7 linked regions of the Homo sapiens genome follow. The protein of the gene in region 6 purifies or fractionates together with the protein of the main gene of each other region. This does not show direct contact. Each region holds a gene or a part of one and is shown on either strand. Other genes may lie near its edges.

What was found.
Region 1: the proteins of SBF1 (region 6) and ACIN1 purify together in Homo sapiens (affinity purification with mass spectrometry, with the first as the bait; one large-scale study listed by BioGRID). This does not show direct contact.
Region 2: the proteins of SBF1 (region 6) and PTGES3L purify together in Homo sapiens (affinity purification with mass spectrometry, with the first as the bait; one large-scale study listed by BioGRID). This does not show direct contact.
Region 3: the proteins of SBF1 (region 6) and UQCC2 purify together in Homo sapiens (affinity purification with mass spectrometry, with the first as the bait; one large-scale study listed by BioGRID). This does not show direct contact.
Region 4: the proteins of SBF1 (region 6) and RAB35 purify together in Homo sapiens (affinity purification with mass spectrometry, with the first as the bait; one large-scale study listed by BioGRID). This does not show direct contact.
Region 5: the proteins of SBF1 (region 6) and IFT52 purify together in Homo sapiens (affinity purification with mass spectrometry, with the first as the bait; one large-scale study listed by BioGRID). This does not show direct contact.
Region 7: the proteins of SBF1 (region 6) and CTTNBP2NL purify together in Homo sapiens (affinity purification with mass spectrometry, with the first as the bait; one large-scale study listed by BioGRID). This does not show direct contact.

The regions. Positions count from the first base shown.
Region 1 is NC_000014.9:23,081,255-23,085,684, forward strand, and holds part of ACIN1 (apoptotic chromatin condensation inducer in the nucleus), read right to left. Parts: intron 961-4,430; exon of another isoform or gene 583-960; coding exon 494-582; exon of another isoform or gene 1-493.
Region 2 is NC_000017.11:42,969,857-42,974,286, forward strand, and holds part of PTGES3L (putative protein PTGES3L), read right to left. Parts: intron 1,841-4,430; coding exon 1,751-1,840; intron 487-1,750; coding exon 433-486; intron 1-432. Other genes in the region: PTGES3L-AARSD1 protein, read right to left, coding at 433-486, 1,751-1,840.
Region 3 is NC_000006.12:33,704,271-33,708,700, reverse strand, and holds part of UQCC2 (ubiquinol-cytochrome c reductase complex assembly factor 2), read left to right. Parts: intron 1-4,430.
Region 4 is NC_000012.12:120,096,500-120,100,006, forward strand, and holds part of RAB35 (ras-related protein Rab-35), read right to left. Parts: intron 2,656-3,507; coding exon 2,531-2,655; intron 2,437-2,530; coding exon 2,312-2,436; intron 875-2,311; coding exon 746-874; 3' UTR 1-745. UniProt on the Homo sapiens protein: The small GTPases Rab are key regulators of intracellular membrane trafficking, from the formation of transport vesicles to their fusion with membranes.
Region 5 is NC_000020.11:43,593,937-43,598,366, reverse strand, and holds part of IFT52 (intraflagellar transport protein 52 homolog), read right to left. Parts: intron 3,675-4,430; 5' UTR 3,669-3,674; coding exon 3,550-3,668; intron 1,933-3,549; coding exon 1,845-1,932; intron 1-1,844. UniProt on the Homo sapiens protein: Involved in ciliogenesis as part of a complex involved in intraflagellar transport (IFT), the bi-directional movement of particles required for the assembly, maintenance and functioning of primary cilia. Required for the anterograde transport of IFT88.
Region 6 is NC_000022.11:50,460,657-50,465,086, forward strand, and holds part of SBF1 (myotubularin-related protein 5), read right to left. Parts: coding exon 4,345-4,430; intron 4,262-4,344; coding exon 4,163-4,261; intron 4,083-4,162; coding exon 3,878-4,082; intron 3,786-3,877; coding exon 3,673-3,785; intron 2,777-3,672; coding exon 2,627-2,776; intron 2,283-2,626; coding exon 2,214-2,282; intron 2,062-2,213; coding exon 1,903-2,061; intron 1,818-1,902; coding exon 1,549-1,817; intron 1,464-1,548; coding exon 1,291-1,463; intron 1,214-1,290; coding exon 1,140-1,213; intron 1,063-1,139; coding exon 867-1,062; intron 631-866; coding exon 503-630; intron 57-502; coding exon 1-56. UniProt on the Homo sapiens protein: Acts as an adapter for the phosphatase MTMR2 to regulate MTMR2 catalytic activity and subcellular location. Promotes the exchange of GDP to GTP, converting inactive GDP-bound Rab proteins into their active GTP-bound form.
Region 7 is NC_000001.11:112,402,077-112,406,506, reverse strand, and holds part of CTTNBP2NL (CTTNBP2 N-terminal-like protein), read right to left. Parts: intron 1-4,430. UniProt on the Homo sapiens protein: Regulates lamellipodial actin dynamics in a CTTN-dependent manner. Associates with core striatin-interacting phosphatase and kinase (STRIPAK) complex to form CTTNBP2NL-STRIPAK complexes.

The sequences.
Region 1 (4,430 bases), on a different chromosome or scaffold from region 6:
CCACTTAGTGTTATATAACTTTAAAGCTTTGATTGAATGGTTAATTATGTCATATCTTGTCTAATAATGTGCTTTAAGAATACAGAGCAGCCTGCTAATTTTCAAATTTAAACTTTTAAAAAATATTCACTTAGAAATCTAAAAGGCAGAGCAGATCTAAATAAAAAGACAAAACGAACAACAAAAAGATGACAAAGAGGAGAAGGAAGATAACCACAAAGAAATCTAGAGGCCAGGCAGTGGCTCATGCCTGTAATCCCAATCCTTTGGGAGGCTGAGGTGGAAGGACTGCTTAAGCCTAGGAGGTCGAGGCTGTAGTAAGCTGTGATTGTGCCACTGCACTCCAGCCTAGGCGACAGAGCCAGACTCTGTCCCAAAAAAGAAAAACAAAACCCCTAAATGTAGAGACATACAAACTCAAAACAAGTCTGAAGAAGAGAAGATATCCAAAGCATTACTGAAGAGGTAATGCTTTAGGAGGTATCTGAGTTACCTGTCTGACCCTAGATGATCGTCTTTCTCCTTTCCTTGGTTTCTCATCATCAGAGTCACCTTTCTCTTCAGAAATTGAGGAGCTTTTTCCTATTGAATGAAAAAGAATCAAGTCAGATTCATGAAGTGAAGACTCATTCATGGCTTTTTAAAAATCAGGCTTTCTAATATCCAACCAATTATAGCATATGAGCCTATCAAGACATATCTGTATCGGTTTCTTTGACTTCTACACTAAAGAAAAGACTACAAAAAGCCCTAACTAGGTCAGGGTCTTATTGGTAATTCTTGGTGTGCAAGTCTAGAATATTTTCAACACCTCGAAGCCAATTCACATGTTATAAATAACTCAAATAAATGTAAAATAATTTCCAGGGGCTTCAAACTGTCTAGCAGGGATGTACAAATATGAAGTGTACTTATTTCTACAAAGTGTTCTTACTCTGAATAAAGTTTAAGACTTCATTATGTTCTGTATCCATTTTTTTGGATTGCCTATTACTACTACTTTCTAATTTCAACCAAAATATTATGATGAAATATATGAATTTGCACAATAACAAACTCAAGAAATAAATACTTAGAGGAATGTTTTTCAGCGCCCTAAAGTTCCTGAAATTACTTCAAGCCAACTGGATGGGGTTTCAGAATTGGGTCCTGTCTATTAGGTTTTATGTATTAGAGCTCAATATTTTTTTTTTTTTTTTTTTTTTTTCTGAGATGGAGTCTCACTCTGTCACCCAGGCTGGATGCAGTGGTGCAATCTCGCCTCACTGCGACCTCTGCCCCCTGGCTTCAAACCAGTCTCATGCCTCAGCCTCCTGAGTAGCTGGGATTACAGGTGCCCACCACCATGCCTGGCTAATTTTTGTATTTTTAGTAGATATGGGGTTTCATCCTGTTGGACAGGCTGGTCTCAAACTCCTGACCTCAAGTGATCTGCCCGCCTTGGCCTCCCAAAGTGCTGGGATTACAGGCATGAGCTCACATGTTTTTCTTTTTTTTTTTTTGAGACAGAGTTTTGCTCTTGTTGCCCAGGATGGAGTGCAATGGCATGATCTAGGCTCACCACAACCTCCGCCTCCCAGGTTCAAGCGATTCTCCTGCTTCAGCCTACCGGGCAGCTGGGACTGCAGGCGCACGCCACCATACCTGGCTAATTTCGGTATTTTTTACAGAGGCGGGGTTTCATCATGTTGCCTAGGCTGGTTCGAACTCCTGGGCTCAAGCAATCCCCCCGCCTTGGCCTCCCAAAGTGCTGGAATTACAGGCGTGAGTCACCGCACCCGGACTAGGTGAGATTTTTTTTTTTTTTAAGGAAAAAAAAAGTTCTATTAAAAAGCTTGGAAACCACCAATCTAGGTTATCCTGAACAATAAATCCATGTAAAACGGAAAGAAAGTTTCACTCAAATTCCATGAAGGAAGGTAACTGGGTAAATCACTTAAGTAATTTGGGTCTCAATATCTTTCTTTTTAGACAGTGTTTTACTCTGTCACCCAGGCTGGAGTGCAGTGGCATGATCATGGCTCACTGCAGCCTCAGCCTCCAGGGCTCAAGTAATCCTCCCACCCCGGTCCTCCCAAAGTGCTGAGATTAAGGTATAAACCACTGTGCCCGAGTCTCAAATGTCATGATTGAGAAAAAGGAGGGGCTGCACTAGATGATTTCCAAATTTCCTACCAGAATTAAGATCAACTAGGCGGCCGGGCACGGTGGCTCACGCCTGTAATCCTAGCACTTTGAGAGGTCGAGGCAGGCGGATCACGACGTCAGGAGATCGAGACCATCCTGGCTAACATGGTGAAACCCTGTCTCTACTAAAAATACAAAAAATTAGCCAGGCGTGGCGGCAGGTGCCTGTAGTCCCAGCTACTCAGGAGGCTGAGGCAGAATGGCGTGAACCTGGGAGGCGGAGCTTGCAGTGAGTCGAGATCGCGCCACTGCACTCCAGCCTGGGCGACAGAGCGAGACTCCGTCTCAAAAAAACAAAAAAGATCAACTATGTACAGTAGCAATACTAACATCAATGAGAACCAGTTTAGAAAATAGCAGGAAGATAATTATATTCCAGATACTTGATCAGCTAGATTGGACTCAATGTTAATACAGTACAAAAGGTTCTGTACACAAAACCATGTTGTATAGTAATAGTGCAAATAAAGCAGATGGTATGCAGCTCTAACCCAAGATCTTCTCTCTTATTTTTTTTTTTTTCTGAGAGAGAGTCTTGCTCGTTGCCCAGGCTGGAGTGCAATGGCACGATTTCGGTTCACTGCAACCTCCGCCTCCTGGGTTCAAGTGATTCTCCTGCCTCAGCCTCCTGAGTAACTGGGACTACAGGCGCCCGCCACCACGCCTGGTTAACTTTTGTATTTTTAGTAGAGACGGGGTTTTGCCACGTTGGCCAGGCTGGTCTCGAACTCCTGACCTTGTCATCCTCCCCCTCCTTGGCCTCCCAAAGTGCTGGGATTACAGGTGTAAGCCACCATGCCCGGCCTTCTCTATTTCTATATCCTTACAATCTAAAATGAACTAGGCGAATGCTTCTGTAATAATAATTAAAAAATCAAAATGAGGCTGGGCACGGTGGCTCATGCCTGTAATCTCAGCACATTGAGAGGCCGAGGCGGGCAGATCACGAGGTCGGGAGTTTGAGATTAGCCTGGCCAATTAGGTAAAACCTCATCTCTACTAAAAATACAAAAAAAATTTTAGCTGGGCGTGGTGGCGTACGCCTGCAGTCCCAGCTACTCAGGGGGCTGAGGCAGAAGAATCGCTTGAACCTGGGAGGCAGAGGTTGTAGTGAGCCGAGATGGCGCTATTGCACTCCAGCCTGGGCGACAGAGCGAGACTCCATCTCAAAAAAGAAAAAAAAAAAAAAAAACCCAAAATGAAACTAATGAAATCAATTAGAAGACTACACATATTTTGTAAAACTTTACTTCATGATCATTTGATTAAAAGGACCTCTGAGTATATACCATTTCGTATCTGGGTAAGTGAAGAAAGATTTGTGTTATGGTTGTTCATACAGGATATATGATTAGAATATATAGTGAAAGGCCAGACTCTTTAGCAAACATTTGAAGACATCTGTAAGACAGTAGTGCAGTGAAATGAAATACTCATTTCATAATTCAGTGATCTGAAATAGGCTAAGTTATAAAATAAGTAAAACCAAAATAAAAAGTTTTCATAAATGTTAGGCAAAGTTCCTTCACAAGTATCAGTGAAAGAAGCTGATTTATCTCACACACACCAAAAAAAAAAGGCAAGTGCAAGGTTGGTCAGAGATAAATGTGTTAAAGTCAACGCTGGGCGCAGTGGCTCACGCCTGTAATCCCAGCACTTTGGGAGGCCGAGGTGGGCGATCACGAGGTCAGGAGATTAAGACCATGGTGAAACCCCGTCTCTACTAAAAATACAAAAAAAAAAATTAGTCGGGTGTGGGGGCGGGTGCCTGCAGTCCCAGCTACTTGGGATGCTGAGGCAGGAGAACGGCGTGAACCTGGAAGGCAGAGCTTGCAGTGAGCAGAGATCGCGCCACTGCACTCCAGCCTGGGCGACAGAGCGAGACTCCATCTCAAAAAACAACAACAACAAGAACAACAACAACAAAGTCAAATAACTGAGTTGCAATTTTAAAATTAGTATGTACAAGCAAAACAGCCTCTTTATCTACCTACTGTGAATTATATGCTATTTATTGAATTATAATGTTATTTTTGATACTGTAAAACTGCAGTGATAGGATTTCTGGATGATTACTCCTCTGGAAGAACTTGTAGTAAGTCATCAAAGAGATCTGGAGAAATGAACAGGGCTGTTCAGAAAGTTCTGGTCATCACTGTTTTGCAATAAAAGCAGAAACTGGAGGCGCCTCAGACATGAAACAAGAAATTAGTCAGCAATGCAAAATATAAAGAGATGAGGAA
Region 2 (4,430 bases), on a different chromosome or scaffold from region 6:
TGGCTCACGCCTGTAATCCCAATACTTTGGGAGGCCGAGGCGGGTGGATCACCTCAGGCCAGGAGTTCGAGACCAGCCTGGCTAACATGGCAAAACCCTGTCTCTACTAAAAATACAAAAATTAGCTGGGCGTGGTGGCAGGCACCTATATTCCCAGCTACTCAGGAGTCTGAGGCAGGAGAATCTCTTGAACCCAGGAGGCAGAGGTTGCAGTGAGCCAAGATCGGGCCACTGCACTCCAACCTGGGCGAAAGAGTGAAACTCCTCCCCCACCCCCCAAAAAAAGAATATTAGCCCTCTTGGGTCAAACTCAAATTTGGTTAACAGGCACTGAGAACTACTGTGTGCTAGGAACTGGGATAGGAGCTCTCTAGTGGGTTGTTTTTAAGGGCTACAAAGAAACTGAAGGGTTGAGGGGAAGGCTTTACTTACATCCAAATCATCCATGGCAGGTGGAGGTCTCTTGGTGCTGACCTTCTTCAAAAGCTAGTGGGAAGAAAAAATAATCACAAGGGAGAAGGGAGTGAAGGAAGAACAATCTGCACATTGATGGTCCATAGAAGAATGGTTGCAGCCAGAACTGGTCAGGCAACTGCTCCCATCTTTAAAACATCACTGGAATTAATTTGAGAAAAGTAAATTGATCCCCTTCTTAAAAGAAAATTTAACACAAATCCAGATTGGAGTCGGCTAGTGTTTTTATAACTGAAACCAAATAATATAACGACAGTGTGTGATTTACTGGGGGCCAATTATTTATGATGTGAGTTTTTATACTGCTAGTTTTAACATCCCATGAAGTTGTCTGGCTTAACACGCGCACACACACACACACACACACACACACACACACACACACACAGAGGCCGGGTTTGGTGGCTCACATTTGTAATGTGAGCACTTTGGGAGGCTGAGACAGACAGATCACTTGAGGCCAGGAGTTCCAGACCAGCCTGGCCAACATGATGAAACCCCATCTCTACCAAAAATACAAAAAAAAATTAGCCAGGGGTGGTGGCGCATGCCTGTAATCCCAGCTACTCAGGTGGCTGAGGCACAAGAATCACTTGAACCTGGGAAGTGGAGGTTGCAGGGAGCTACTGCACTCCAGCCTGGGAGACAGAGCAAGACTCTGTCTCAAAAAGAAAACCACACACACAGGCCAGGCATGGTGACTTACGCCTGTAATCCCACCACTTGGGAGGGTGAGGCAGGTGGATCACCTGAGGTCAGGAATTTGAGACCAGCCTGGCCAACATGGTGAAACTCCGTCTCTACTAAAAAAATACAAAAATTATCCAGAAGTGGTGGTGGGCACCTGTAATCCCAGCTACTCAGGAGGATGAGACAAAATTGCTTGAACCCAGAGGCAGAGGTTGCAGTGAGCTGAGATCGCGCCATTGCACTCCAGCCTAGGCGACAGAAAACCACACACACACACACACACACAGAAAACAGTAGAACAAGAATTACAGAAAAGTGGAAAAACGTTTTGTCAAACTTCTTCAGAATACAGGCTCTACACTGAATAAGTGAATCAATGTATATAATTTCAATAATATTCTTTCCTCTCATCCCTATTAAATAAACATTGCACAAAATACGTAAAGAATATCAGCATCAATGAGTAACCTGCCTAGAGAGCTTGCATATCTCTGCTTGGCCCCAGTGACAATCCTCCAGAGACATGTGTGCAGAGAAACACAAAGAATGATCAAGTGGGCAGAACACAGTAGGTGTTGTCTCTCACCTCTGCATAATGTTCCACATGAGCCAGCTCCATCTCTTCATCCCCTTCCCAGTCTCTCCAGTTATCAAAGTCCACAGACAGCCACACTGGCTGCAAGAAGAGGCACCAAGAGTCACAGGCCAGGAGGGCAGGAGCAGGAGTGTGTGGGAGAGTGTGGGCATATGCATGGGAGCACGCCTGGGGAAAAGAGGGTCAGTAGGTCCCTAGTCCTCCCAACTGCACTCCTTTGACCAGGAACCTGCCAATCTACACACAAAGCTAGGCATGATAGAGTCTGAAAATCTCAGAAGTCCTACCCTCCGGCCAGGCGTGGTGGCTCATGCCTGTAATCTCAGCACTTTGGAAGGCCGAGGCAGGAGGATCACAAGGTCAGGAGTTCGAGACCAGCCTGGCCAATATGGTGAAACCTCGTCTCTAGTAAAAATACAAAAATTATCCGGGCGTGGTGACGGGCACCTGTAGTCCCAGCTACTCGGGAGGCTGAGGCAGGAGAATTGCTTGAGCCTGGGAGGCGGAGGTCGCAGTGAGCCAAGATCGTGCCACTGCACCCCAGCCTGGGTGACAGAGCAAGACTGCATCTCAAAAAAAAAAAAAAAAAAAAAAAGAAGTCCCACCCTCCAGGAGCCGATTGACTGAGGAGACAACACATCTGGAAAGATAATTGTATCATAAAGCAACATAGGCATTATGCCCTCTCTCTCTCCCTCTCCCTCTCCCCCTCCCCCTCCCCCTCCCCATGGTCTCCCTCTCTTTCCACGGTCTCCCTCTCATGCGGAGCCGAAGCTGGACTGTACTGCTGCCATCTCGGCTCACTGCAACCTCCCTGCCTGATTCTCCTGCCTCAGCCTGCCGAGTGCCTGCGATTGCAGGCACGCACCGCCACGCCTGACTGGTTTTGGTGGAGACGGGGTTTCGCTGTGTTGGCTGGGCCGGTCTCCAGCCCCTAACCGCGAGTGATCCGCCAGCCTCGGCCTCCCGAGGTGCCGGGATTGCAGACGGAGTCTCGTTCACTCAGTGCTCAATGGTGCCCAGGCTGGAGTGCAGTGGCATGATCTCGGCTCGCTACAACCTACACCTCCCAGCCGCCTGCCTTGGCCTCCCAAAGTGCTGAGATTGCAGCCTCTGCCCGGCCGCCACCCCGTCTGGGAAGTGAGGAGTGTCTCTGCCTGGCCGCCCATCGTCTGGGATGTGAGGAGCCCCTCTGCCTGGCTGCCCAGTCTGGAAAGTGAGGAGCGTCTCCGCCCGGCCGCCATCCCATCTAGGAAGTGAGGAGCGCCTCTTCCCGGCCGCCATCACATCTAGGAAGTGATGAGCGTCTCTGCCCGGCCACCCATCGTCTGAGATGTGGGGAGCACCTCTGCCCCGCTGCCCCATCTGGGATGTGAGGAGCGCCTCTGCCCGGCCGCGACCCCGTCTGGGAGGTGAGGAGCGTCTCTGCCCGGCCGCCCCGTCTGAGAAGTGAGGAGACCCTCTGCCTGGCAACCACCCCGTCTGAGAAGTGAGGAGCCTCTCCGCCCGGCAGCCACCCCATCTGGGAAGTGAGGAGCGTCTCTGCCCAGCAGCCACCCCATCCGGGAGGGAGGTGGGGGGGGGTCAGCCCCCCGCCCGGCCAGCCGCCCCGTCCGGGAGGGAGGTGGGGGGGTCAGCCCCCCGCCCGGCCAGCCGCCCCGTCCGGGAGGTGAGGGGCGCCTCTGCCCGGCGGCCCCTACTGGGAAGTGAAGAGCCCCTCCGCCCGGCCAGCCGCCCCGTCCGGGAGGGAAGTGGGGGGGGTCAGCCCCCTGCCCGGCCAGCCGCCCCGTCCGGGAGGTGAGGGGCGCCTCTGCCCGGCCGCCCCTACTGGGAAGTGAGGAGCCCCTCTGCCTGGCCACCACCCCGTCTGGGAGGTGTGCCCAACAGCTCACTGAGAACGGGCCAGGATGACAATGGCGGCTTTGTGGAATAGAAAGGCGGAAAAGGTGGGGAAAAGATTGAGAAATCGGATGGTTGCCGTGTCTGTGTAGAAAGAAGTAGACATGGGAGACTTTTCATTTTGTTCTGCACTAAGAAAAATTCTTCTGCCTTGGGATCCTGTTGATCTGTGACCTTACCCCCAACCCTGTGCTCTCTGAAACATGTGCTGTGTCCACTCAGGGTTAAATGGGTTAAGGGCGGTGCAAGATGTGCTTTGTTAAACAGATGCTTGAAGGCAGCATGCTCGTTAAGAGTCATCACCACTCCCTAATCTCAAGTAATCAGGGACACAAACACTGCGGAAGGCCGCAGGGTCCTCTGCCTAGGAAAACCAGAGACCTTTGTTCACTTGTTTATCTGCTGACCTTCCCTCCACTATTGTCCCATGACCCTGCCAAATCCCCCTCTGTGAGAAACACCCAAGAATTATCAATAAAAAAATAAATTAAAAAAAAATAAAAATAAAAATAAAAAAAAATAAAGCAACATAGGAGTCAACCAATAAGACAGACAAGCTGCAGCCAGGCGCAGTGGCTCACACAACCTGTAATCCCAGCACTCTGCGGGGCCAGGGTGGGTGGATCACCTGAGGTCAGGAGTTCGAGACCAGCCTGGCCAACATGGTAAAACCCCATCTCTACTAAAAATACAAAATTAGCTGGGCATGGTGGCACATGCTTCTAGTCCCAGCTACTTGGGAGGCTGAGGCAGGAAAATTGCTTGAACCTGG
Region 3 (4,430 bases), on a different chromosome or scaffold from region 6:
GCAGCAGGAGGTGGGGCTTAGATCCAGTTGACTGACTAGTATGGAGCTCCTCCTTGGTTAAGCCGGTTGCCAGAAGACAGAACTGGAGGGGAAAGTAGCTCTGCTCATGCCGTCTTTCCATTTCCGTAGAGGAGAGAGGCAGTCAGTCCTCCTCTCAGCCTCTTGGCTTCCTTCGTCCTAATGATCACCCTGAAAGGTGCACAGTGCACCTTTGCCGGCGTGATCTCATTTAATCCTTAGTACAGCTGAGTGGTAGCCATTACTGTTCCCATTTTACAGATGAGGAAACATCAGAAAAACAAGACAACGCACTGGGGGTTCCGTAGCCATAAGAGACAAGCCAAGTGAGAAACAGACCCAGCCCCTCTGGCCCTAGTGTGCATCGTCTCCTGGGTGCCTGGCCTTTCCTCAGCTGCTGTTCCAAGTTATTGTTAGAACAACCTCTTATTCCATGAACGTCAAACCACTTCCTTCCCCTGGTTGCCCGTTCAAACCTTTTTGGGCCATAGATAGTTTGGGCAGCAAATGGAACTCCCTGTGTTTACCCACCTATTCTTTGCCCCAGCCACTACCAGTCCAGATGGGAAGAAAGATGGTCCTGGGTGGGACACCAGGCGGAGAAAAGCTGGGTTAACTAAAGGGCAAATCAATAATTCATACACAAAACCAGAGTACAAAAACCACTGCCTCCATTTATTCCACCTCAAATTGCCCTCTGGGGAGTCTTGTGGTCCACCCTAAACCCACCAAGTGGGGAGGTGGTGGTGGGAGCGGGAACACATGTAACTCCTCTTACACCCCATATCCTATTGTGTAGTTTTAAAAAGTCAGTGTTTATGGGCTTTGCCAATTTTGAATACAGTTTGTCTAAGAACACGTGTTTCCTACAGCGCTGAGAGCTTAATAAAAGAATTGCAACGTGGGGGAAGGTGGCACAACAAATGTAATTGTTGACCTAACAACAGAGAAAGGAGCAGATCTTTCTAATGAGTTCATTAGGTGCTTCCTAAAAGATCCCGGACTGCACACCAGCACCCACTTATGTAGCACAAGGTGCAACTCCGAGGGGCGTCCTAGAAGAGCTGCTGCTCTTCGCCCACCAGGGAGTTCTAACTGTATTGTATGCAAGTTTAAGTATAATAATATTGGCCCAGTTTGAAAGAAGTTAAACTTTTTCTTGGGTTTCTAATAAGGTAAATGGTATTTCCACCTTCTCAGAGGAGAATTCAAAGGTTTTTTTGATTCTGTTTTCTCAGTCATCCATTTGAGGCCTGGTCCTTGGCATTCCTCAGTGTGGCAGGGAGCTAGCTCCCAAGCCACCTGGCATATGCTGGCCACGGTGAAGCCATCTCAACGTTGCTCACCCCCACTTGTGGGCCCCCTGAAGTTATGCTTTTGAAGAGTGTCCTAAGAACAGATTATCCTATTTTTAATTATGTATTGAGCCCATCGAAAACCTGGAGTTGTAAGGAGAATCATCTCTAAGAGGGAATACAAACATCTCCATCTTTTTTTCTCTCCCAATTCTGAATGGCGCCAGTGTGAGCTAGGGTAGTATTCACACCAAGGGGTGGCGTTTATCTCTGCATATGTAAAGCTGCAGTGCTCCACCTGAAGGGATAAATTCTTGGCCACTTCTGGTGGGTCACTACTTTATTCAAAGATGTTTGGGGTCTGCCCATTGCCTCCTGGGCAGGTGGCAGGCAACTTTGTGAGACCTGCAGTGCCTCTGATCCTTGGTCCCAGCCTGTGTTTCCAACCTTGCCTCGCACCACCCTAACATGAGCCCCAGGCTCAGCAAGGGTGTCTTCTCATGGTCTCCCAAACTGGCCATGGTACAAGCAATTCTGATCCTTTGAGACTTAAGTGCGCTGTGGATCACTGCACCCCTACAACCGCAAAAAACCCAAACACAGAGTTTGTCAAGAATTTGGTGGCTTCCCAGGCTCTTGGAGCCCTCCCTGGGTTCCCCTTAAAAGCCCTGTCTGCCTAAAACACTCTTGTCCTGTGCCTCTTCATGCCTCATCCTCCCAGTCATTTCTGGTCCCTGTGTCACTCATGCCCAGGTTGGCACTCCTCACTCTCTGCACTGTCGCTGCAGTGAAACTCAGCCCTTTCCTGCCACACCTCCCCATCAGCACAGCCAGGTGCCCAACTCCCACCTCGGGTCTCGTGCAGCGGCCCGTGCTCCGCAGATCTGGCTCTCACTTACACATTGCCCCGGGCAGGGTTGGTTTCTAATTCATGTGTATCTTGTCTCTGTAGTGTGCCTGCCAGCTTCTCCACAGCTGGCCTGGGTCGTCGTCTTTGTGGCCCCTCACCGTCCCCTAGTGGAGCACTCTTTCTATAGTAGGTGCTCAAGAAATACATTTTCAACTCAATTGAAGGGAATAGGCTCCCATAACAGAATGAACTCATTTCAGAAGTTCATTACCAAGTCTTGAAAACCTTTTTTTATAGATCCTCCTGGACCGAATCCAGCTCTACCTTAATTAGCAAAGCAATTTGCAACACCCTTTCCCAAAAGTGCTTATGCGTCCCTTTGTGTGACTAGAATAGGGGCCGCTGTACCAATTGCTGTCACCACCCAAAATTCAATTTGCAAAATCGAAATCAGTGCCTGCAGCACTGATGTAGATTTGTATGTATAAAAGTTTAATATGGTAAAGAGAAATTTACTGACGACTGAACAGGGGAAATGCAAAAGGAGCAAAAATAGAGCTATAAAGGACACTCGTCAGATGAACATCTATTTTATTCACATTTGGGGAGCAGTGCTGAATTTTTCATAATGTCCCCACTGCTGCCTTTTCAAACCCAGCACTGCTATTAGTCCTAAAACGTCTGTGATCTCATTAGGTGTGAATGCAAAATCAGGTAATTTAAAGCATGTATTAAGAATATTTCTAAAAATGCACCGTCCATTTCATCAGAAAAACTGCATTTCAGAGCTCAGGAATGTTAGTGCTGGAGTCTGTGAATAAAGTGTAAGCTATAGGAACGTGGTGAGGCTTCTGGAATTCGACAGATGTCTCCACTGACATCCTTTTAAGTAGTAAGCATGACTTTTTTAATTGCTGAGCTTGAGTTATCTGTGGCTAGGAACCCAGCATTGACCAAGGCTTCATCACTCCTCAAGCAGTAAGAACTTGGCTAGAAATGGGCATGTCTCAAACTCCTGTCACCTCCACTGAGCTGCTTTTACAGCCTCAGTTAGACACCTTCTGACCTCAGACGGGAAACTGGATGGCAAGTCTGTTTTAGGACTCAGGTGTTTGGTTTTCTTTCTCAGGTTACAGCTGAGTCCAGGAATTCTGGGAACTCTCTAGGAGACTGTCTCTTTCACACAGGAAGTTTCAGAAGTGAGAGTGGTCGGGTGCGGTGGCTCAAGCCTGTAATCCCAGCACTTTGGGAGGCCGAGGTGGGCGGATCACAAGGTCAGGAGATTGAGACCATCCTGGCTAACACGGTGAAACCCCATCTCTACTAAAAATACAAAAAATTAGCCAGGCGTGGTAGCGGGCGCCTATAGTTCCAGCTACTTGGGAGGCTGAGGCAGGAGAATGGCATGAACCCGGGAGGCGGAGCTTGCAGTGAGCCAAGATTGTGCCAGTGCACTCCAGCCTGGGCGACAGAGTGAGACTCCATCTAAAAAAAAAAAAAAAAAGAAGTGAGAGTACCTGAGGGTCACTTTGCTTTTTGCACTTAGACTTTGTACATTTTGCTCTTATAGGAGCAGCACTCTGCAAGGGTGACCCGCCCCCCATGCCCCTCCTGTCTGTCCTGCTGCTCATCAGGGATGGGACTACGTGGCAAGGAAGGACAGCACCTTATACCACACCTGCTTGAGGGTGTGATACAAGGTTGCTGAGCAACCTACTGGTGACTTCTCACTGCTAGAGAAGTTGGAGCAGGAAGGGAACTTGAGTTGAAAGGTATTTGAGGGTGGGGATCTGGTCAGAATGCAGGTTTATCAGGAAGCAGTGTTAGGAGCCCAGGAGAGAGGCAGAGGCTATGGGAGGAAGGCAGATCAGCTTGTGGACTCCTTTCCTAAGAGCTTGGTTGGGAAGGTGGTGGGGATGGTGGCAGGACGGGAAGGTCCAGATAAGCGGCCATCAGGTGAAGACCAGGTACAGCAAACAGCTGCTCTCTCGGCAGACCATGGAGAGCTCAGTGACTGCTGAGAGCCACCAGGGTCAGTCAGGAGTGAAGCCTCAGCAGTTTTTCATCCTTCCTCACTTCCGTTTCCAGCGCCACCCTCGGCAGTGCACACCAGCCATGCTGATCCACTGGTAACATGCTGACCCATTCCCTGGGCACGGGCTCCACCTGGTCCTGTGCCTGGAGCACCCCACTCCCTTGCCGGTACATGCGCCCATCCTCAGCCACTCATTGTCCAGCACTTCCTGCCTGGCCCCATAGGCCCATAG
Region 4 (3,507 bases), on a different chromosome or scaffold from region 6:
GGTGTAAATGAGAAGCCATGGCTGCCCTGGGTTTGGAGCTCAGAGGCATCTAGAAGGCAGGACAAGAAATCTGTTGGCCAAAGGGCAAGACCTGCCACCTCTGTGGAACTGCAGGGCCTGCCTTGAGACCAGGTTCCCCAGCTCCCAGAATGGCTGTGGGGACAGGACAACGGGGAGGGAAGGGAGCTGGCACAGGCCCCGGAGAAGGGGCAAGACCCTGTGCAGCGGGGACAGAGGCTGACAACCTGTCGGAGAGAATGAGCAACGCGGAGCCCACTCCACTGGCACGGGCTGGCCGCAGACGCAGCTAGAACGTGCCGCTGTCTCCTCAGGACGCTGCTTGCAGTAAGATGGGCTGGGGAGGGGCGCGGGGAGGGTCTGTTGCAGCAGGCTGGCATCAAGAAGGCAAAAGCCAGAGCAGGACGTGGTGTGCGGCCGGGTAGAGCAATATACACTATGTACAGACTCTGCGAATCAGTCCGCTCGGCGGGCAGCGTCCTCGCCAGGTCCAGGCGCCTTGGCCGGGGAGGAGGGGGCACCAGTAGGGAAGGGCGGGCTGGTCCAACACCTTCTTGGCACTCGAGGAGGGCGGGGGAGGAAGTGCCGATGGCACCTCCCGATACAAAAACATGGAGAGAATTCTTTAAATAACGGCACGAAACTGAGACTGTCCCCCGAGGAACCTCCGTGGGCCTCGGGCTGGGGGAGGGACCGCAGTGCAGTCTCTGCAGTGGACTGGGTGCCATTAGCAGCAGCGTTTCTTTCGTTTACTGTTCTTCGTGAGCTTCACCACATCGTTCTGTTGTTGCTGCTGCTGTTTTGCCAGGTTGTCTTTCTTTGCTCGGAGGACCAGCTCCGTGATGCAGTTGAACATCTGTGGAGAGGAAAGAGGAAGGGCCCGCCTCAGACCTGGCCAGGAGGCCCCTGCTGGCCTGCACGGCTGCCTCCCCGCCTTCCGGGGCCCAGCTCTTTCTACCTGTGCATTTTTGGTATGTATGTCTTCAAAGCCTATTCTAGAAGGAGGTGGTGAATTATTTTATTTAAAGGTCAAAAAGGAACAACATTGCTAAAACCCCACCTCTACAAAAAACACAAAAATTAGCCGGGAGTGGTGGTGCACACCTGTAGTCCCAGCTACTTGAGAAGCTAAGGTGGGAGGATTACTTGAGCCCAGGAGATCGAGACTACAGTGGGCTGTGAACACACCACTGCACTCCAGCCTGGATGACAGAGTTAGACCCTGACTCAACAAATAAATAAGTCTGAAAAAAGGAACACCATCAGAGGCCCATGAGCTGTGTGGACTTGGGGAAGTCAATCTCACAGGGGTTTTCCAGTCCTTCTTTTAGAGAGACCAACCCCTTTCCTTCAGCTGGAATCTTTTTTTTTTTTTTTTTTTTGTGAGATGGAGTCTCGCTCTGTCGCCCAGGCTGGAGTGCAGTGGCGTGATCTCAGCTCACTGCAAACTCTGCCTCCCTGGTTCACACCATTCTCCTGCCTCAGCCTCCCGAGTAGCTGGGACTACAGGCGCCCACCACCACGCCCGGCTAATTTTTTTGTATTTTTAGTAGAGACAGGGTTCCACCATGTTAGCCAGGATGGTCTCGATCTCCTGACCTCGTGATCCGCCCGCCTCGGCCTCCCAAAGCACTGAGATTACAGGCGTGAGCCGGCGCGCCCGGCCCAGCTGGAATCTTATGACATGACAGATGAAAGTGCCCCTGCTGTTCACGGACATAGGTGACCCGGGGTCTGCCTGCTCCACGCCACTTCATGGCATGTGGGGCCCAGAGAGGTGAAGTCACCGCCCAAGGTCATACCAGCCTTGCCCACAGGCCCAGGTGGATGGGCCAGCATCAGGACACCAGCCTGACTTACAAAGGAGCCTGTGCCCGCTGCTGTGTGGCCCCTGTGCCCTGAAGCAGTGGGATCCTCGACTTCCACAGGCCTCTGGGCTCCACACAGCACAAGGCGGCCAATGAGGCAGAGGACTGGAGTGGAAACTGTGCTTGGCTTTGGTGTGGGACAGAGGTTTACTCAGTCTCTTACTAGCCAGGTGGTGGTCCTTGAGTTACTTCAACACTTGGAGCCTCAGTTTCCCTATTTGAAATGTGGGTATAATTGTACCTACCTCAGAGGACTGTTGAACTATGAACTAAGATCGTTAAAGGGCCTGGCACATAGTAGGCACTCAATAAATGGCAGTTACTATGACATTTTCTGTTGGTCATTTAGATGCCTCAAGCAGGCCAGCAGCATGGAGAAGGCGGCCACGGGTGTGTGGCAGAGCCACAGTGGCCCAGGGCCTCACCTCTTCCACGTTGACATTCTCCTTGGCGCTGGTCTCGAACAACTGGATGCCCATCTGCCCGGCGAATTTGTAGGCATCTTCCGTCTCCACCACCTTCCGCTCAGGGTCGTCATTCTTATTACCCACTTCAAACGAAGGCAGAGTCAGCGCAGCCCTGAGGGGCGCAGCCGGCTGCCTCTCTCCCACCCAACCCCGACCCGGCCCTGAGTGCAGCCTCACCTAATATTCGGCACACATCATCACAGTTCTGGTTGATTTCGTGAAGCCACCGCTTGACGTTGACAAAGGACTCGGCACTGGTGACGTCGTAAACCACAATGACCCCGTGGGTCCCCCGATAATACCTGCAGGGCCAGAGTGTGCGGCAGCATGTCAACCCCGACAGGAGTCACCCCCTTGCCGGGACCCACCTGCCCACGTCAGGACACTGACCCGGAAAAGGTGAGGGTGGCCCTGGAGCCTGGGCTCTCACTCAGCCTCGGCAGATGCCCCCGAGCCACAACAGGCCAGCAGGAGAGGCTACTGCGGCAGCACTGACTCCCCCTGCCCGCCCGGGGCACCAACAGGGCGGGAGGGCCAGCCCCTGGGCAGCAGAGCAGGTCTGAGGAGTCACCTCCTGCTGTTCAGAGTCTGCTGCAGGCTTGAAACATCTTTGAAGTTCTTGCTTTATTTTGGGAAATCAGGCAGTTTTTGTATTTGACATCATGTTATCACTGTCTTTGAACATTCAAAAAAATATTTGCTCCTCAAACCTGTTTTAGAGAACCTTTCCAAGAAGCCACACCATCATGACGCCCTGGCAAAGTCTGTGCCCCTCCCCTGGGGCAGGTAGGCACCTCCCTTCCTGCTACTCTTGGCTCATCTGTGCAGGTGGCAGGAAAAGCATGGAAGCCACACAAGCATCCAGGGATGGCTGGGGAGAGGGCGCCCAGCAAAGCCATCACCCCAAACATGCAGAGCCCAGGGCCAGCCAGGAAGGCCAGAAGGAAGGGGAGGCCCAACTCTCCTCTCCAGACCCCATGTCCCCATTCATCCCAGTGGCACAGGACGACATCAATCCCCGGAGGAGGAGGGGGACCACAGCCTCCGCTTCCCCGAGAGCTGTCGAAGAGCCGGAGGCCAGGCGGCAGCCCCGCCCCACACTGTGCAATCAGCCAGAGCTGTCCCTCTGTCCCCTCTCCCCAAAGCCGCAGGGA
Region 5 (4,430 bases), on a different chromosome or scaffold from region 6:
GCAGAACTGTTTTCATCTTGCAAAACTGAAACTCTATACCTATTAAGCAGCAACGCTCCATTCCCCACCTCCCCCAGGCCCTGGCAACCACCACCCTTCTATTTTCTGTCTCTACGAATTCGACTACTCTACGTACCTCATGCTTGCATAAGTGAAATCATACAGTATTTGTCTTTTTGTGTCTGCCTTATTTTCGTTTGGCATAATGTCCTCAAGATTCATCCATGTGTAGCATGTATCAGAATTACCTTCCTATTTAAGATTGAATAATATTCCATTGTATGTATATACCATATCTTATCTACTCATCTGCCGATGGATACTTGGGCTATTTCCACCTTTTGGCTATTGTGAATAGCGCTGCTAGGAAGATAGGTGTGCAACTATCTCTGAGATCTGGTTTTCCATTCTTTTGGGCATATACCCAGAAGTGGAATTGCTAGATCATATGGCAGTTTTTTTTTTTTTTTTTTTTTGAAAGAGTCTCACTCTGTTGCCAACGCTGGAGTGCAGTGGCCCGATCTCTGCTCGCTGCAACTCCGCCTCCCAGGTTCAAGTGATTCTCCTGCCTCAGCCTCCCAAGTAGTTGGGATTACAGGCGCACACCATCACGCCCGGCTAATTTTTGTATTTTTAGTAGAGATGAGGTTTCACCATGTTGGCCAGGCTAGTCTCGAACTCCTGACCTCAAGTGATCCACCCTTCTCAGCCTCCCAAAGTGCTGGGATTACAGGCGTGGGCCACCACACACAGCCATCATATGGCAATTTTATGCTTAAATTTTTGAGGAACTACCATACTGTTTTTCATGGTGACTGCATCATTTTACATTCCCACCATCAGTGTGGAAGGGTTCCAATAACTTCCCATTCTCACCAATACTTGTCATTTGTATTCTGGGCCTTACATTTATCATTCTTTATCCATTCCATGAACTAGAATAATAAACACTTTTATTTTAAATGAATTCCTATTTTCTTTCTTTTTTTTTTTTTGAGATGGAGTTTTGCTCTTGTTGCCCAGGCTGGAGTGAGATGGCGCGATCTTGGCACACAGCAAGCTCCGCCTCCCAGGTTCAAGCGATTCTCCTGCCTCAGCCTCTCATGTAGCTGGGATTACAGGAATGCGCCACCACGCCTGGCTAATTTTGTATTTTTAGTAGAGACGGGGTTTCTCCATGTTGGTCAGGGTGGTCTTGAACTCCCGACCTCAGGTGATCTGCCTGCCTCGGCCTCCCAAAGTGTTGGGATTACAGGTGTGAGCCACCGCGCCTGGCGGAATTTTCCTATTTTCAAAGCAAAAATATAGCAAAGAAATGTGGCTACTGGCTGGGCTCGGTGGCTCACACCTGTAATCCCAGCACTTTGGGAGGCTGAGGTAGGCAGATCACAAGGTCAGGAGTTTGAGACCAGCCTGGCCAATATGGTGAGACCCCATCTGCACCAAAAATACAAAAATTAGCCGGGCGTGGTGGTGGGCACCTGTAGTCCCAGCTACTCAGGAGGCTGAGGCAGTGAGAATTGCTTGAACCCGGGAGGTGGAGGTTGCAGTGAGCCGAGATTGCGCCACTGCACTCCAGCCTCGGCGACAGAGCGAGACTCTGTCTCAAAAAAAAAAAAAAAAAAAAAAAGAAGTGTGGCTAATATTTAATTGGCCCACACTATGTGTTTGGTACTTTACATGGAGTATCTCAGTTAATCATCACAACTCCATGATGAAAAGAGAGATGAAGTGACTACCTTAAGGCCACACAGTAAGTGGTGAAGGGGGATTCAAATCCGGTATTTCAAAGCTCAGACTCCTAATCATTTCACCATATTCCTTCTTTAGTGGATATTTCTTACCTCAGCTGCAGTAAATTTTTCCCTTGGCCCAGCTGTAATCCACAGTTTCACTCCATTTAACTTCTCAGATGTGATTTCATCTTTTAAGCTGGAAATACAATTTTAAAAGCAAATATGAAGTCCATAATTTAAACCAATTTATGTATTATTTTAGTCTCTTAACTATTTGGAAGCAGAGGCCACAGAGGCTCAGAGATGAAGGGATTTAGAGGTAACTGGTCCAGTCTCTCTCCCAAAGTGAGAATTCCCTCTACAGGCCTGCCCCAGAGTCATCTGGCCTCTGTTCAAATACTTCCAGTAAGTCAAGGTGTTCAAATCAAGCCATGCTAAAGCATAAGGAAGTCTGCAACTACTAATTCAATCAGCCCTACCATTAGCTTGTATGATTACATATCCTCACCTATTAAGAAAAACATGCACATACACAAAGTTATTCTCATTTAATTCTCATGTTTCCTTTCCCTAGTACTGACCTGAGTCAAAATATGAAGAAAGCCTCTAACATCTTAAAAAGCTACATGTGTATAATTAGAATAATCTTTTGGCTTGTGATTTGGAAAACAACTTAATAATATGCTGCTTTAATAATATCCTAATTGCTGATTTCGAAAGACATTTTTTTTTTAATTTTTGTTTTTGACAGAGTCTCCCTCTGTTTCCCAGGCTGGAGTGCAGTGGCATGATCTCGGCTCACTGCAGGCATTCACTTCCTGGGTTCAAGGGATTCTTGTGCCTCAGCCTCCTTAGTAGCTGGGATTATAGGCATGCACCATCATGTCTGGCTAATTTTTGTATTTTCAGTAGAGATGAGGTTTTGCCATGTAGGCCAGGCTGGTCGCCAACTCTTGACCTCTAGTGATCTGCCTGCTTCAGCCTCCCAAAGTGCTGGGATTACAGGCATGAGCCACCGCGTCCTGCCCAAGAGACGTTTTAATAAGAATTTATTTCATTCTGAATAATGTTTTTTTATTTTTTTAGACAGAGTCTCGCTCTGTCACCAAGCTGGAGTGCAGTGGCGCAATCTCGGCTTACTGTAACCTCCGCCTCCTGGATTTAAGCGATTCTCCTGCCTCAGCCTCCCGAGCAGCTGGGACCATAGGCACGCACGATCATGCCCAGCTGATTTTTGTATTTTTAGTAGAGACAGGGTTTCGCCATGTTGGCCAGGATGGTCTTGATCTTTCTTTTTTTTTTTTTTTTTTTTTTGAGACGGAGTCTCACTCTGTTGCCCAGGCTGGAGCGCAGTGGCACAATCTCGGCTCACTGCAACCTCTGCCTCCCGGGTTCAAGCAATTCTCTGCTTCAGCCTCCCAAGGAGCTGGGATTACAGGCGCCCACCACCACACTTCGCTAATTTTTTTTTTAATTTTTAGTAGCGATGGGGTTTCACCATCTTGTCCAGGCTTGTCTCGAACCCATGACCTCATGATCCACCCGCCTTGGCCTCCCAAAGTGCTGGGATTACAGGTGTCAGCCACCGTGCCGGCCAGTCTTGATCTCTTGACCTCGTGATCCGCCCGCCTCAGCCTCCCAAACTGCTGGGATTACAGGTGTGAGCCACCACGCCAGACCTAATTCTGAATAATCTTTAAATTGAGCTTCTCCCACCTAAACAATCTATGTTACCTAAGAAAATAAAGACTTCTCAGCTTTATCAGCAGGACAATATCATTTAGAAGGGAAAACAATATACATGGTCAGTCACCTCTGAATCTTCCAATTACTCCGAAGTTTTTTCTGCATGGATTTGTAGCCATTGTTGGTGGTAAATATCTCCTTTTTGTAGGCATTGAAAAGAATGGTGCTCCGCAGCTCTTTCTCCATGGTTACCTTATGGAAGAAAGATGGGATCAGAAAATCAATAAACAATATTCCAAAGACCCTAAAAGTAATAAATAGTTGCCTTCTACTACTAATTTATCAAGAAAGGGTATACAACTGAAACCTATCTAGGAAACTCCTACAATTCTCAAAGGTTGAGAGTGAAATGCAAAAGCATAGCACAGAAACCTAAGACCAAAACCAACCCAGCCCTCCCCTACCCGCTTTTGCTTTCTGCCTCTTGCCCAGATCCTCCCAACAGCCTACACCTATGGCTCTGCCCTGCCATCACCCTGCTCTTGTGTCCCAAGACCATGTTTCCATCCTGATTCATTACTGCTAACTACTGTTAAGCGCAGGGTATAGTCTTCTAGATTCTATTTTTCTTTTTTTTGAGACGGAGTCTTGCTCTGTCTCCCAGGTTGGAGTGCAATGGTGTGATCTTGGCTCACTGCAACCTCCATCTCCCGGGTTCAAGCGATTCTCCTGCCTCAGCCTCCTGAGTTGCCAGGATTACAGGCACGTGTCACCATGCCCAGCTAATTTTTGTATTTTCAGTAGAGACGGGGTTTCACCATGTTGGTCAGGCTGGTCTCAAACTCCTGACCTCATGATCCACCTGCCTTGGCCTCCCAAAGTGCTGGGATTACAGGTGTGAGCCACTGCACCCAGCTCGAGATTCTTTTTATACATATATTAACTTACAGTTTTATTTTATGAAATAGGATCTTACCATATGCATTATTCTGAAACACCTGTTTCACC
Region 6 (4,430 bases):
CGGAAGAGCTCGGCGCTGTCAGACCCCACCTCCTCGTCAAAGGCCATTTTCAGCAGCTGTGTCAGTAAAAGCAGCCCTTAGGGGTGTGGGTGGCCCCCCAGCCCCTCCCCCAACTCTGACACTGCCAGGCTCCCCTTCCCCTCGCAGCCATGACAGAGAGAGAAGCAGGCCCCAGGCAAAGGCCTGTATCTGTGTCACACGAAGGCAAGCGCTTGTGTAAACTCGAAATCTCAGTGGCTGTGAGCTGAGGCCTGGGTTTGCAAGGCACACCCAAGACACGGACTTGAGGGCCGGCGCCCCAAGGAAAGGACAAGGACCCAAAGACCGCACATCAAACAGTGGACATCAACTCAAGAGCCACAGTGAGGGCCCCAGACATGCAAGCGTAACAACAGGGCCACTGCTGGAGACTGGCCTAAAAATGGTTCATACAAGAAAGACCGGTTTGCAGGAGAAAGACCAGGGCGGGGGATGAGAGCCCCACCCGCGCACCGCGCCCCACCTGGAATGTGCAGGAGCGCAGCTGGAGCCCGTCCTGCAGGAGCTGGTCCACAGGGGTCTGGACGCTGATGCGCTTCTCCTTGGTCAGCGCAGCCACCGGGAAGGAGCGGACCACCACCTGCTCCCCAACTTAGGACAGGCCAGGCAGAGTCAGAAGCAAGGAAGGTAAGGGGGGGGGGGTCCCAGAATCTCAGGGTACCACAGTTATGGGGAATCCCAAGTGGGTGGGGAAGGAGCAGACAAAGGCCCGTTTCCCACGGGCACCCAGAACCCCCGAGAAAAGGGAGAGGGAGGCAGGGAAAGCCCATCCATCCCAAAGACCTGGGGGAGAGGGGGCGACAGGGCCAGAGAGTCTGCAGGCTCACCCAGGGGGTCCGTGGGCATCCCCGTGAAGATGACCCGGTACGTGGTGAGGAAGACGGCGCCCTCAGCTGGGAGCAATGCTGGTCCCCCAGCACTGCCCCCCGCGCCCTCCTCACGCCCATCCGGCAGCAGGTAGACGCGCAGGCCGTCCAGCACACACTCCTCACCCGGCAGCAGGCGCGGCCGCAGCAGCTTGGGCTGCTCGAAAACAAGAGCAGGAGCTCAGGATGCAGCCCGGGCCTTGGGCCCCCGCAGCCCCAACGGCCCCCGCAAACCTTCTGGATGGGCGGCAGCCTCCGGCTCTCCCGCTGCACGGCCTCCAGGGTCTCGATGTGCATCTGGACAATGTCTGGGGGAAGACAGTTCTCACACTTTGTGCCCAGCCCCACCCATCCAAGGGGGAATCACCAGCCCAAACCCCCGTACCTGGCACCATGACATGCAGCCCCTTGAGGTGGTCGCTGGTGACCCCACTCTCCGTGCAGACCTTGTCCACAAAGCGGTTGATGAAGCGGACCACAGCCCCAGCTACGTCGCAGGTCTCTGCATCCTCGAAGCCGCTCTCCGTGTCATAGCTCTCGGCCACACTGCCAGCCATGCTGGGCCAGAGAAGAAACTGTGGGCATGGGCCCTGCCCACCACGGCCCCGCCTCCACTGGGCCCAACCCCCAGTCCCTGCCTCACCTGTTGGTGACCAGGCTGTTGCTGGCGCTCTCCAGGTCGCCCAGCCCGGCACGCTCCCGAAGTAGGCGGCTCTTGCTGCTGTCCAGGGGCAGGAGGAGGTAGCTCATGCGGTTGGCATAGTGGATGGCCTGGCTGAACACCGTGCTCTCCTCCTTCTGCACCAGCTCCTGCTGCTTCTCACGACTCAGAGTTGGCCACAAGCGCCGCTGCTCAGAAGCCACGTCTAGGGCAGAGCGCTCGTCCTCCTGGGAAGGTGCCTCCCCAACCTCCTGCCACGGCACCACACGCATGAGCCGGGGCCACGCTGCCCCAGCCCCTAGCCCCCAGCCCCCAGCCCAGGGAGTCCCTGCGCACCTGGGCGGGGGCCAGGTCCTCCGTGGGCTCCAGGTAGAGGGCCCGGATGTGAGTCTGCACATCCCCATAGAACATGGCCTCCCAGAACTGTGGCGTGCTCCACACCACGTGCTCCTGCACACAGCTGTATGCAAACTGCGTCACCCCCGGGCTCAGCTTCTGCAGGAGCCAGGGGAGAAGGTCAGCTGGATGCAGCCAGGAAGGGCGGCTGGGAAGGAGACCTCGGCCACCAGGAAGGGGGGCTGGGAAGGAGACCTCAGCCACCAGGAAGGGGGGGCTGGGAAGGAGACCTCAGCCATGCCAGCACTCACCCGGCAGAAGGCTGTGACCAGAGGCAGCAGAGCCGCCGCAATGCCATGCTCGTCCAGAGAAGTGCAGTCCTGCAGGTAGAGCGAGAGACCGTCAGGACCTCTCCCCTCCCAGGCAGCACTCACCTCCCACCATGCCCCCACCACCCCATAACCACCACAGACCAGCACCTGACACCCTTGGCTCCAGCTCCCCAAGGCTGCCTCAGAGGCTCAATATCAGGAGACCCCAGGCCCCAGCACCTGCCCCCAACAATGGTTCTCTCCACCCTGTTCCCTGCAGACCGAGGACCCCTGCCCACTGGCACAGGAGTCTCTTGCACCGTCTCTCCACTCTCACTCACAGACCAGGGTCTGCCCGCCTGTTCCCGCTCATGCGCCATGAGCCATGTCACTAGCAGGATAAGAGGCCTCACCTGCAGGCAGCAGTTCATCATACGGACGACAAAGTCAAACTGCTGGTGGTCCAGGACCGCACGGTTCTGCTGCACATGCAGGTGCAGCTCCTGGGCGAGGCAGCGGCGGGCAGCTCGCCCCTTCAGGGCCCTCAACACGGCTGGGAGCAGCTGGGGGTGGGGAAAGGAGACACGGGCTGAGGGCACAGAGAAGACCCACTCGGGGCCCTGGCAGGGAGGGCAGCAGGTGTCCAGGAGACCCAAATGCCTTTCAGGTGGGGTGTGCCAGACTCTGGGGCTTTGCCGACCAATAAAGACTAAAACCTCCAGTGGGCCCGACAACTCCACAAGTACAAGTTCACCAGGCCAGACACAAGGACGCAGATGCTGCACCTGTGAGCTGGCAGGGAGGTGCGCTCCGGAGGGAGGCCTTGCGGGCCGGGCCCCCTTGCTCACAGGCTCACAGCTGCCTGGCTGGCTCAGTGACTCGCCTGGCACAGGCCCGGCCACAGAAAGCCTTGGAGTTTGCGTTCTATTGCTACAACGTTCATCACAAAACTGGCCGCCCCAAAGGGACACCATACAGCCAATGAAAAACAAGAGTCTCCAACTGGCCATGATGAAAGACCCCAGAGGCGTTAAGTGAGCACCACAGAGAGCAAAACAGCAGGAGCAAAAAGCTCTGTTTCCATAAGATGCAAGGAACAGGTCACGTATGGAGGGAGCAAGCTCTGTTTTCCATCAAGTACAAAGAACAGGTCGTGTATGGGCCTACCCAATTTAAGGGGAAGGACACAGACGAAACATAATAGTGAAACCTTCTGATTTCTAAAAATGGAAGTACATCTCCCTGGCTGGGTCTCCCGCGCAGGCCCGACCCACCCCTCACTGAGGTCAAGAGAGGAGACCTGGAGCCCACCTACCCTCCGGCCAGCCCAGCCACCTCTAGCTGTCTGTTAGGCAGAGGAGGCCCTGGGGCAGCGTCAGCACTCACAAGGGTGAAGTGCAGCCTGGGTCTCCTCTGAAACCCGCTGCCCTGGCCCGGCTGGAGCCTGCACAGCCCTCACCTTCTTGGCCTCAAGCATTTTCCCCTCAAACACGTAGGAGATGCAGTTGCGCACAACCTCCAGCCGCCGGGCGCTGTTGACATGCAGCCCACTGCACCGCTCCAGTATGGCAGCTGCGGGGACAGAATACACACACTCGGACCCCTGACCCCACGCCCATCCTGGGCCACGCTCGGGGCCTGCCTTCCCCTCCCTCATTACGCACTCATGGGGGGCCCTGAGGGCACGGTGGTCCTCCTCTCGGCCTTCACAGCTGGGGGTGCACCCTGCATCTTGGCTGCAGCCTGGTCCACGATCCACTGCACGGTGCCCTCATCCAGCCGGGGGAAGGGTCGGGGCACCCGTCGCAGGTGGCTGCTCTCACCGGGCCTCTGTACCTTGTGCATCGCCACGGCTGGGTACGGGTTCTCCTGTGGGGAGACGGCAGGTGTGGGGCAGGGGCCCAGGGATCAAGGCGGTACGACGCCCTCCCGTCCTGCTACCCTCGTACGTTCTTGTAGAGCTGCTCTGCCAGTTCCTGGACGTGACGCAGGACACGCTGGGGGTGGTTCTCATCCGCCCGCATCCTTGCCACCTCGTGGGCCACCAGCTAGCGGGGTAAGCAGGAGGTTAGGTAAGCCATGGTCAGGCGGAGCCAGGGCAGGGGGCTGGGAGGGCAGGGTGGAGGTGCACCTCATCGAACAGGTCCGTAGGGCGGTATGGGACCCCACGCTCTGACACAAAGCCAGCAAAGGCCATGCCCTCCAGCACCTTCATCA
Region 7 (4,430 bases), on a different chromosome or scaffold from region 6:
GATGAGAAACCTGAGGCATAGAGGCTAAAAAACTTGCTCAAAGCCTCACAGCTAGTATGTGGTAGAAATGGGATGTGAACCCAGGTAAATTGACTCCAGAGACTCCCTTGGTAACCACTGCTTACATCTGATCCTCTCATTTTATCAGCCTTAGGAATTGTATGGTGGAAAAACCTCAGCTAAACAACGATTCACAAAGCTGGAAGGAGCCTCAGCAATAATCTAATTCAGCACTCTCATTCTACAGATGAGTACTGAGGCCAGAGTTGTTAATGTGAATACAGTTAAATAGAACTAGGTCTAGCACACGTTTTTTTTTTTTTGAGACGGAGTCTCACTTTGTCACCCAGGCTGGAGTGCAATGGCGCGATCTCGGCTCACTGCAACCTCCGCCTCCCAGGTTCAAGCAATTCTCCTGCCTCAGCCTCCTAAGTAGCTGGGATTACAGGTGCCCACCACCACGCCCAGCTAATTTTTCTATTTTTAGTAGAGACAGGGTTTCACCATGTTGGTCAGGCTGGTCTCGAACCCCTGACCTCGTGATCCACCTGCCTCGGCCTCCCAAAGTGCTGGGATTACAGGCGTGAGCCACTGCGCCCGGCCGCATACATGTCTTTTTAAGATCCAGTTTAATTCGCTTTCTGGGACAACATAATAGGTATCAGGTTTTTGTTTTGTTTAGTTCTAAGACTCATGCAACTCTGCTATATCTCTCTGTGAGTGTGAATGTGTGAATGTGTAAGTGTGTGTGTGTACACATCTCTTTCTCTGTCTCTCATATATGATGTCAGCAAGATTTATATGTATATTGAAGAAAAGAAGGAAGTAGCCTTATGCCCATAAACAAACATTCAGATATCTCTTCCCTCAAATGAGAACATTAGTGCAAAGCTATTAAAAACAGGTCTGGGCTGGGTGCAGCGGCTCACGCATGTAATCCCAGCACTTTGGAATGCCGAGGCAGGCAGATCACCTGAGATAAAGAGTTCAAGACCAGCCTGGCCAACATGGTGAAACCCCATCTCTACTAAAAATACAAAAATTAGCCGGGCATGGTGGCGCACACCTGTGATCCCAGCTTCTCAGGTGGCTGAGGAAAGAGAATCGCTTGAACCCAGGAGGTGGAGGTTGCAGTGAGCTGAGATTGCACCACTGCACTACAGCCTGGGAGACAGAGCAAGACTCTATCTCAAAACAAGAACAAAAGGTCTGTCTACCTGGATATCTGTTTACACCATCTCAGGTATTCTCATCTGAGACAAGGCCAAACTAGAACTACATTAGTTAAGCTACTGGAATGGATGTTAATGAAAATGAATAACAACTTTTATATTAATAAATTTTTTATCATTGAACATTTTAAAAAAGATATGTCTTTTAACATCAGAATATTATTACCAGGAAACTGAAACATTACATTTTTTTTGTTTGTTTTTTTTGAGATGGAGTTTTGCTCTTGTTGCCCAGCCTGGAGTGCAATGGCGCAACCTCGGCTCACCGCAACCTCGGCCTCACCGCAACCTCCGCCTCCTGGTTCAAGAGATTCCCCTGCCTCAGACTCCCAAGTAGCTGGGATTACAGGCTTGTGCCACCATGCCTGGCTAATTTTGTATTTTTAGTAGAGACGGGGTTCCTCCATTTTGGTCAAGCTGGTCTGGCACTCCTGACCTCAAGTGACCCGCCCACCTCGGCCTCCCAAAGTGCTGGAATTACAGGCGTGAGCCACTGCACCCGGCTGAATCATTTCTATATAATTTGTTAGATGGCTTTATTTCATTTAAATGAAATTGTAACATGATTTCAATCAAATATGTATCTGACCGTCTCTATTGTCTATCTGTCCATCAGTCCCCTAAATTTTTGCTTTTCTGAAATAATGCCACCATAACTTGTAAAATACCACAAGGGAACAATAACATGTAGATTGATTATTTTCAGTAAGATGATTCATGGGCCACAATTCTAGAGGCAGCCTGGAATGCAAACCCTTCAAATGCTAATGTAGGATGATGACGTCATTGATTCCACTAAGATTCCACACTGGGGAGAAACTCCAGAGTATGGTATGAAGGATTAACCATCAAACAGTTAAGGAATCTGTGTTTTAGCGATGCCCATAACCTGACTTTATCTGAACTGCAAAAAAAACTTCAAATAATCCTCTAGCAGAAATAAAACTCGTGATGTTGTTTTGTCTTCTAAGACAGATAACTGACTTAAAAAAAATTTAACAATTGAGTATCAGTTGAATATTTCCAACAACAAGCCTGGCAATTGTTGTTCTATGGTTCTTCAGGGACAGTAATTCTGCTGGGAGACAGTATGTTATAGTGGAAAGCACATGGATTTTGGAATCTGACAGAGCTGAGTTTGCATCCTGGCTCTGCCACTTGCTCTTTCATCCATTTAACCTTTGAACTTCAGTTTTTTAGCTATAAAATGGACATAACAATACATACTGTAACAGGAGGCTGCATGGTTTAAATGAGTTAGTGACTGGTCAGCTTCTCATTTCTCATCCTTAAAGAGCATACTTTTTGGTTTCATCTGCAAGGATAATGAAGTTTTCCTTTTCCAATGGGTCATCATTGTCTATCATTCACGTGTCTAATTTACAAACCAAAACAAGTTTACTTCTGACTTCTGGCAGGTTGATCTGCACCAAAAAGAAAGAGATGGCCTGGCCAGTTCCTGGGAAAGTCAGTTTAGAGACATGTTCAAGCCAATTGTATCTGCACAATACTTGGGAAAAGAAAAGGCCAGCCTTCTGCTTAGATTAGTTTTTTGTGCCTTTAGCATACAGGTAAACGCATACCTTTGCTTCCACTGAATTTTAACAGGTTTTAATCAAGTCACAACTTTAACTTGTGATGACTGAGAAATGGGTTTCCTGAAAATATCACAGCTATTTTTTTACATTAAATTAAATGCATAATGGATATGTATCTACATTCGTAATTCAAGAGCAGTTATCACATTCTATTACATCAATTCATCTGTTTACATATCTGTCTTCTGTCTCACAAGACTCTGAACTCATCTGAACAACTACTCTGTCTATTCAACTTGATCACACTTAGCACTAGCAGTGTCTGGTTCAGATACTGAAAAAATGCTGGTTGGAAAGAAATGTACAGCACTTTCAATCTCAGCCAACACAACTGGACTTTACCTTTTAGAAAATGGGAAGCCACTCAACATTTTTAACCTGGTGAAAATCATAACAAAAGCATAGTTTTAGGAAAGTTAATGCTTACAGTACAGGGCTGACTTGACTGAAGAGAAAATGGAAACAGAAAGAGTAGTCGGGAAAAAAATTTAACAGCATAGGTATGAGGCAAAAATGTATGAACTAGGATGGTAGCAATAAGAATGGAAGAGACTGACAAAAGAGACATTAAAAAGAATTTACTTAGTTATTTAAGAATTTACTTACAGTAAATGACGGATTTTCATTTAGGGAGGTAAGAGGGGAAATAATCCCAGATCAGCTGAGGTTTTGAGACTGGGTGACTAGAATGATGATACCATTAGCAAAAACAGGGATGTTAGAAATGGAACTGGGTTTACTGGGGAAATGATGACTGTGATACGAGACAGGCTGAATGAGAAGTTATTTGACCCCCAAGAGGAACGTGTTAAGAGTCTGTTAGTGTGGTGATGGCTAAGGGTTTAGAAGTGAAGAAGTCTTTGGGGATAGAGCCTTTTAAGGAAATTTATTCTGTGCCCTCAATTTAAGGACAAGAGGCAACAAGATGAAACTGATATATAGGGCTAGACCAGATCATTGTTATACCCTCAAACATTAAGTCAGTTAAGAACTAGATTGGTTCTGTTGTTACTTCTGTAGCACCTGCTGTAACAGAAAGGACTATTTAGCAGAAACCAAGTAATGAGGGCCTCCCTGGAGCCCCCATTCTCCAACAAAAAACCCAGTTTGTGCTTCTTTCTTTTTCCTATAACTTACCTGTCAGTTATCTTTCATCCTTCTCTCCATTATAACTTACAATTCTTATCTCGTGTTAAAACAATTTATCCCTGCTTCTACTTTCTGTTCTCCTTCCCTGGCTCTCACTTTTCTTTTTTTTGAGATGGAGTTTCACTGTTGTTGCCCAGCCTGGAGTGCAATGGCGCGATCTTGGCTCACCACAATCTCCGCCTTCTGGGTTCAAACGATTCTCCTGTCTTGGCCTCCCGAGTAGCTGGGATTACAGGCATGTGCTAACATGCCTGGCTAATTTTGTATTTTTAGTAGAGACGGGGTTTCTCCATGTTGGTCAGGCTGGTCTTGAACTCCCAGCCTCAGGTGATCCACCTGCCTCAGCCTCCCAAAGTGCTGGGATTACAGGCGTGAGTCACCATGCCTGGCCTGGCTCTCACCTTTCTATGGTGAGTAGACCCAGAGCACACTTCAGCTTCAGCCTAGCCTT